2 linked regions of the Homo sapiens genome follow. The protein of the gene in region 2 purifies or fractionates together with the protein of the main gene of each other region. This does not show direct contact. Each region holds a gene or a part of one and is shown on either strand. Other genes may lie near its edges.

The links. Proteins that work in one complex are often made in the same cells at the same time.
Region 1: the proteins of UGT3A2 (region 2) and ACAT1 fractionate together in Homo sapiens (co-fractionation; one large-scale study listed by BioGRID). This does not show direct contact.

What each region holds. Positions count from the first base shown.
Region 1 is NC_000011.10:108,145,567-108,148,103, forward strand, and holds the end of ACAT1 (acetyl-CoA acetyltransferase, mitochondrial isoform b precursor), read left to right. Parts: intron 1-635; coding exon 636-793; intron 794-1,682; coding exon of another isoform or gene 1,683-1,703; coding exon 1,704-1,824; 3' UTR 1,825-2,037; downstream 2,038-2,537. UniProt on the Homo sapiens protein: This is one of the enzymes that catalyzes the last step of the mitochondrial beta-oxidation pathway, an aerobic process breaking down fatty acids into acetyl-CoA.
Region 2 is NC_000005.10:36,052,371-36,057,824, forward strand, and holds part of UGT3A2 (UDP-glucuronosyltransferase 3A2 isoform 1 precursor), read right to left. Parts: intron 2,692-5,454; coding exon of another isoform or gene 2,611-2,691; intron 1-2,610. UniProt on the Homo sapiens protein: UDP-glucuronosyltransferases catalyze phase II biotransformation reactions in which lipophilic substrates are conjugated with glucuronic acid to increase water solubility and enhance excretion.

The sequences.
Region 1 (2,537 bases), on a different chromosome or scaffold from region 2:
ACCAAGCAACACACAATCAGTAAAGCAGAGCTTAAGAATATATAAAGCATTATGTGCCCCTAAATAGAAAATGTACCTTTTCAAATATCTGTGGAAAGAAAATCAAATTTTCTGTCCCCTATGTCAAAACAGACATAATGCAAACAAAATTCTTTGATATAATGGAATAAGATGAGCAACTAAAAATCTGAAAATGGGCCGGGTGCGGTGGCTCACGCCTGTAATCCCAGCACTTTGGGAGGCTGAAGTGAGCAGATCACCTGAGGTCAGGAGTTTGAGACCAGCCTGGCCAAACATGGTGAAACCCTGTCTCTACTAAAAATACAAAAAATTAGCTGGGCATGGTGGTGGGCATCTGTAATCCCAGCTACTCAGGAGGCTGAGACAGGAGAACTGCTTGAACCTGGGAGGCAGAGGTTATAGTGAGCCAAGATGGCGCCATTGCACTCCAGCCTGGGAGACAGAGCAAGACTGTTGGAAAAAAAAAAAATCTGAAAATAGAGATCCTTCCATCTGAAACCAAGAACTTCCATATTTAAATAACTTATGTCAAACTGTAGTATTTCAAGGAAATGATGACAGTAAGTTGTGATTGCTAATTATTTGAACATCATCTGTCTTTTAAAAAATTTAAGGTTCTTAAAGATGTGGGATTGAAAAAAGAAGATATTGCAATGTGGGAAGTAAATGAAGCCTTTAGTCTGGTTGTACTAGCAAACATTAAAATGTTGGAGATTGATCCCCAAAAAGTGAATATCAATGGAGGAGCTGTTTCTCTGGGACATCCAATTGGGTAGGTAAAAATAATAACTATATCTAGGTTAAGAGCTGCCTTTGTGTTTCTAGCTAAACTTAAAACTGCTTCATAATTCCCATTGCTCTTAAGTTTTCCTTCCTACCCATCTTTCATAAGGCAAAAACCATTTCTGATAGATGGTATCCAATACTGAACAGAGACCTGTCACATCTGTTATTTGAAACCTAATAATGTTTTATGCTGAAGAAGAAAAAGTGTACATTTAGACTTTTTACCCCCTTTTTCTCCTTCCTATTTATTTCATTAGCTTTAGGGTACCGTGGGTTTTGGTTACATGGATGAATTTATAGTGGTGGGGGCTGATTTCAGTGCACCTGTCAGTCACCCAATATGTAGTTTATCCCACATCCCTCTTCCATTATACTCTACTCTTCTATCCATTATACTGTTCTGTACTTTTAAAAGATCTGTGACCTGGCCAGGCACGGTGGCTCACGCCTGTAATCCTAGCACTTTGGGAGGCTGAGGTGAACAGATCACGAGGTCAAGAGATAGAGGCCATCCTGGCCAACATGGCGAAACCCTGTCTCTACTAAAAATACGAAAATTAGCTGGGTGTGGTGGTGCACGCCTGTAGTCCCAGCTACTTGGGAGGCTGAGGCAGGAGAATCGCTTGAACCCAGGAGGTGGATGTTGCAGTGAGCTGAGATTCTGCCATTGCACTCCAGCCTGGCGACAGAGCGAGACTCCATCTCAAAAAATGATCTAAGATCTGTGACCCTTCCTGAAACAAGTCCTCCAAGTTTTAGTTTTAGAATAGTAGTAGTTAATTCAGCAAGTAGTAGTGGCTAGTAAGGTTTTCAAGAAGTTAAATTGGAATAGAAACATTTTGGTTAGTCATAAATTCTGTACTTCATTAAAGAAGTAAATGCTTTCTTAATTTTAGGATGTCTGGAGCCAGGATTGTTGGTCATTTGACTCATGCCTTGAAGCAAGGAGAATACGGTCTTGCCAGTATTTGCAATGGAGGAGGAGGTGCTTCTGCCATGCTAATTCAGAAGCTGTAGACAACCTCTGCTATTTAAGGAGACAACCCTATGTGACCAGAAGGCCTGCTGTAATCAGTGTGACTACTGTGGGTCAGCTTATATTCAGATAAGCTGTTTCATTTTTTATTATTTTCTATGTTAACTTTTAAAAATCAAAATGATGAAATCCCAAAACATTTTGAAATTAAAAATAAATTTCTTCTTCTGCTTTTTTCTTGGTAACCTTGAAAAGTTTGATACATTTTTGCATTCTGAGTCTATACTTATCGAAATATGGTAGAAATACCAATGTGTAATATTAGTGACTTACATAAGTAGCTAGAAGTTTCCATTTGTGAGAACACATTTATATTTTTGAGGATTGTTAAAGGTCAAGTGAATGCTCTTTATAGGTAATTTACATTTAGTAAATTACGGTAAATTAAATTACTTCTCTTTACAGTAAGAGTTGGCTATTCTGGACAAACTAGCAGTGCTTCATATAATCACTCAAACCACAGTGTGTGCAGCAGTACTAGAAACAAGACAGAAGCCCATGTCCTCAGGGTCTAGAGTGGGGGCAATTTCTTATAACCTCAACATTCAGGGTTGGGGGAGGTCAAGCAGAAAACCCTGGAGTTTGGGCTCTGAATTACTATAGCAGCATAGAGAGTGGGAAGGGAGGTAGAAACTGATATGCTGAATGGATATATAAAAAAGGGAACAGATCACCACTTCCAATACACGACAAT
Region 2 (5,454 bases):
AAAAAGTACTAAAAGACTTCATTAATAGAGTAGTCCCCTACATCTCAACTTGCCTGCTTGGCCCCTTCTTCATTATCCATGTGTAATAAGAAGTCTGACTCCATTTTCACTCTTTGCCTCTTGACAAATGTCAAGCCCCATTTCCCCTTCCCAACCCCATGCTTCATCTGAGTAAATTGGTAAGAAAACTCACACACACCTTCTCTCTTATCCCTGGTAGGAGTTTCAATCCATGCAAGTCAGGACAATGAAAGGAAATCCTCAGCCCATCCTACCCCTCCTCACAGTAAAAACTCAAGCCAGTCATCCCTCCCTGCTCTCTAAAGCCATTTTTCAGATTTGCCTGGGAGCCTGTCCTGCTATTCTGAAAAAAAGAAAAAAAAATACCTCACCCTATGAGTCATAAACCTCTCATATCTTCTTAATGCATGTGTGCCTTCATCACATCCAAATCAAATTTTGTGTAAGGATTGGGGGTATGTTAACAGATAGCCCCACATATTAAGGCCCTCATACTCAAGCTAATTGAAATGAAAGACTCTATCCAAGTATCTACTGGCAAATACTTTGCAGTCATAGAGTTGGCTAGAATGTTTTTTTCCATGCTGATTTTAACAGGCTCTCAGCCACAGTGTGTCTTTACCTTGGAAGAAACACAATGCATGGCTACTCATAGTATACTTCAACAGCCCTACTATTGCCCACAATCTTTGCCAGCAAGAGCCACTGCTTCCAGCTTTCTCCAGGAGTACAGATATAACATTACATTGAGGGTGTCCTCCTCTGAGGAGATTCATTTGCCACACTCATTTAAGACATAGAAACATTCAAAAAGGAGCTCACAAAGGGGATAAGCCATTGTCCCATGCAAAGTATCAGACCCAGTCCCTCACTTAAATTCCAAAGGATCATTTGGTTAGTTGAAGACCTCTCCATCCCCAATACTATTAAGAAACAATTATTGAGCATCTCTGTGCCCATAATGTTACAAGCCCAACATCTTTTAGGCCTTTTTTACACTTTAAAGACAACATATTCCTTATTTATAAATTTTACTTAGGTCCACTCATGTTTATTACTTGAAAATCAGCCCACATTGCATAGGAACCCCTGTAACAGAAGGCTCTAGAATCTGTCCAAGTTGCAATACAACAGGCTCTCTCATTAGTGCCCGCCAGGGACACCTGCACTGTAAAGGCTTTAGCATCCTCCTTTCATGCCTCCTGGAGTTCTTCTGAGCACCTATCATGGCTGTTTCAGTTTCCTATTGCTGCTTTAACAAATTACAACAAACTTAGTTGCTTAACACAACACAAGGTATTGTCTTATAGTTCTGGAGATCAGAAGTCCAAAATGGGTCTCATTAGAATAAAATCAAGGTGTGGGTAGAGCTGCATTTCTTCTGGAGGCTCTGGGGAACGATCCATTTTCTTGCCTTTTCCAGCTTCTCAAGGCTACCTGCATCCCTGGCTCATGGCCCCCTTCCAACAGGCAATCACATCACTCTGATTTCTTCTTCCATCATCACTTCTTTAACTCTCCTACCATCTTCTTTCCTTTATAACAGGGGTGTCCAATCTATTGGCTTCCCTGGGCCACATTGGAAGAAGAAGAATTGTCTTGGGCCACACATAAAATACAGTAACACTAATGATAGCTAATGAGCTAAAAAGAAATTGCAAAAACAATCTCATAATGTTTTAAGAAAGTTTATGAATTTGTGTTGGGCCACATTCAAAGCTGTCCTGGGCCACATGCAGCTGGTGGGCCACGAGTTAGACAAGCTTGCCTTATAAGAACTCTTGCATTTAAACTGGATTCACCTGGGTAATCCATGATAGTCTCCCTGTCTCAAAATCCTTATATTAATCACATCTGCAAAGATCCTTTTGCCTTTCGAACATGTAAAATAGCACATTCATAATTATAGGAATTCAGACATGTATATCTTTGGGAGGGAGCATTATTTGCCTACCACAGAGTGTTCTCTAGATCCCAGACATTCATATACACCCCTCTTGGAATGAAAATGTATTCATCTTGTCCCAACATCCCCCAAAGTCCCAAACAATTATATTATCAATTCAAAGTGAAAAATCTCATCTAAAGCTCATCAGCTCGGAATTCCCAAATCACATCATCCAAATAATCTACATCAAGTGTGGGTGAGAGTCTGGGTGTAATCCATTCAGTGGCAAAATTGCTCTCCTTCTGTGGATCTATGAAACTAGGAAAAAATGACCTGCTCCCCAAAACCAATAGTGGGACAGGCATAGGATACCAATTATAGACATTATTCTAATGGGGGCAAAAAGAAAGTAAAAAAAAAAATGAGGTGCCAGTCCCAAGACATTTTGACTCCAACTGGGCAAACAAAATTAGGTTTTAAGGACTGGAAATAATCCTGTGGTTTGGCTCAGCCTTCTGGGCTAGAAGCTCTGCCATCTGGGCTCATTGCTTCACCTTCAGAGTTTTCCTTCGTTTTTCATGAATCGTTGCATGTGGTTACAGCTGAGTGGTTTGTCAGTTTATTTCCTACTTGCAGAATCTGGGGAGTTCAACAGCCCTCCTTCCTGTCATATTCTCCTCCCTGTCATATTCTCCTCATACCTTTTAGTCCAAATTGGCAGTACTTCTGAAGGTATAAAATTCTTGGGTACCGGGAGGCTGAGGCAGGAGAATCGCTTAAACCTGGGAGGAGGAGGTTGCAGTGAGCTGAGATCACACCATGGCACTCCAGCCTGCATGACAAGAGCAAGACTTCATCTCAAAAAAAAAAATTTGGGGGGGTACCTTGTGACCCTCGTGGGTATGTCATAGTAATTCATTCCACTAAACAAGAGGCTGCTCTGCAGTTTGTTTTTTTTTTTCTTTTTTTAGACAGAGTCTCGTTCTGTCACCCACCCAGGCTGGAGTGCATGGCACAATCTTGGCTCACTGCAACCTCTGCCTCCCAGGTTCAAACGATTCATGTGCCTCGGTCCTCTGAGTAGCTGGGATTACAGGCACGAGCCACCATGCCTGGCTAATTTTTGTATTTTAGTAGAGACAGGGTTGCACCATGTTGGCCAGGCTGGTCTGAAACACCTGACCTCAGGTGATCCGCCTGCATCAGCCTCCCAAAGTGCTGGGATTACAGGTGTGAGCCACTGTGCCCGGCCTAGGATCCACTGACTTTTAGAAGAGCAAGACCACCAGCTAGTGTCTAGATGTTCACCTCATCATCCTTTTAATATGTTGCCTCTGTAATGTGGACCATTAAAATCTTTTATCTGGCTGGCTGCCTTATAGTAATATCCCCTCAATTATTTTACTCATTTACTTCTTTTCTTTTATCCCCAACTCCATGTGCCTCCTCTCTACCTTGCTGATCTAAGTAGCAATAATATTTTACTTCTATTCCTTTTCCTTTTCATTTCAACCTGTTTATTTTGAACAAGAATAAATATCCTTTCAGGGACATGTTCTCATTCCTTTTCACCAGGTCTGTGAGATAGTGATGATCCTCTGTTTATGTTTATTTGCGGAAATAGATATTTTATTTTATGTGTAGACTAGTCATTATCTTGTCCTATCCATCTTTTCCATGTTTTCCTTTGTTTGTTTCATTTCCTTTTCCTTTGTTTCATTTCCTAGGATTACAGGCATGAGCCACCGCGCCCAGCCTCCACACATCTTTACGAGATAGTTTCATCTTGATTGGTGGCTTCTGCCATTATGGTTGAAGGAATCCATGAGACATACATCTAATTGCAGGACAGTTCTCAGGGTGGCCTTGGGCTGACCCTGTTTTCCTCTCTGCTTGTCACTTGTAGTTATCAAGAATAACTGCAGAAAGTGCTGGAAATGTAACACTCTGAGATAGAGAGGTACTGGGTGGAATAGCCCAGGCTTTGTTACAGTCTCCACTAGAAACAGGATGTCCTTCAACACTTAGCTTAGTACGTCATGTTTCTCCAGGGTATAAAACCCAAGGTGGTCTGCACTTCGTGGTCCTTTATCTGCAGGGCAAGTGGGGCATGTACAGTTGAGACTCCATTCATCCCGGGCAGCTTTCTGAACCTTGGAGGACCAGCTCACAATGAATTTTAGGTTTTGGTTGCTGCGCACGTGCAAGTAATAAATCCACTTCATGGAATTTGTTGCGTTATGTGGGTGTTCTTTCTTAGCAGACTCAGGCAAGTTGGTAACCAGTGCACACCAAACCTGCTTCATGCTAATCTCTTCAGTGAGCTTTCTGTGTGACTGAATACTCTGACCGTTTAATCCTGCAGAGGCAATAGCAAAAGGCTGTCCAGCCATACAATTGGCTTTCTCTACAAGACAACAGGATACACTGCTTTCCTGACATTGAATTCCCCAATTTTAAAATATTTTATCATCCTAATAGGCTGAGAATTTCCAAAACCATAAAGTCCTCGTTTTCTGCCTCATAGTTATTTTCTCAATTTATCTTTCCTCTCACATTTTACTATAGACAGTAAGAACACTTGAACATCTATATTTCTACAAAAAGCCTGTGTATGATGATTTATAGTCTCTAAGACAATACAGATTTTCTCTATCATGTTCTTTCCTTCCTTCTGAGTCATCACTAGCAGAGTTCTTAGAATCTCCAGTTCTACTCACAGTCTGTTCAAAGCAATTTAGGCTTTCTCTCTCATGCTCGTGAATATCTCTTGAATATTCTTCTAGCCAATATGTATAATCCAATTGTGATTCCAGATATTGATTGGTTGGAGCAGTAGTACATGTCAGTATTAGAAACCTTTGCTTCTTCAGTGCCTCTGATGTCATTTATTAAAGTTGCAAATAAATAAACAGTATGGGAAAGTGTTTCCAAATAAGGAGTTAATAATTGGCTCAAATGTTTCAATTCATTAAATTGGGCATCTGATCAGAAATAATAACCCAATCATGTGTTTCCTTGTTTGCAGACCTTCAGCCAAGCTCTACGGATGAAATGAAAAATGGGAATTCTATTTCAAAGTTTCAGAGACATCCATGATGAGGGAATTATTAAAAGAAACTCTAGACTCCTAATCCTATGAAAAAACAGAAAGGATCCACACATTCCTTGAATTGTTTATAGATTTTGCTCTGCTTGTATTTGTTAAAGAGTAAAAGGTCTGTAGCTTTCAGTAGTTTCTCTCTCTCTCTCTCTCTCTTTTTTTTTTTTTTCTCAGACTGGGTCTCACTTTATTGGCCAGGCTGGAACGCAGTGGTATGATAATGGCTCACTGCAGCTTCAGCCTCCAGGGCTCACACAATCCTCCTGCCTCAGCTTCCCACGTAGCTGGGACCACAGGAGCATGACACCATGCCCAGCTAATGTTTTATTTTTATTTTTAGTAGAGATGAAGTCTCACTATGTTGCCCAGGCTGGTTTTAACTCCTGGGCTCAAGTGATCCTCCTGCCTCAGCCTCCCAAAGTGCTGGGATTACAAATGTGAG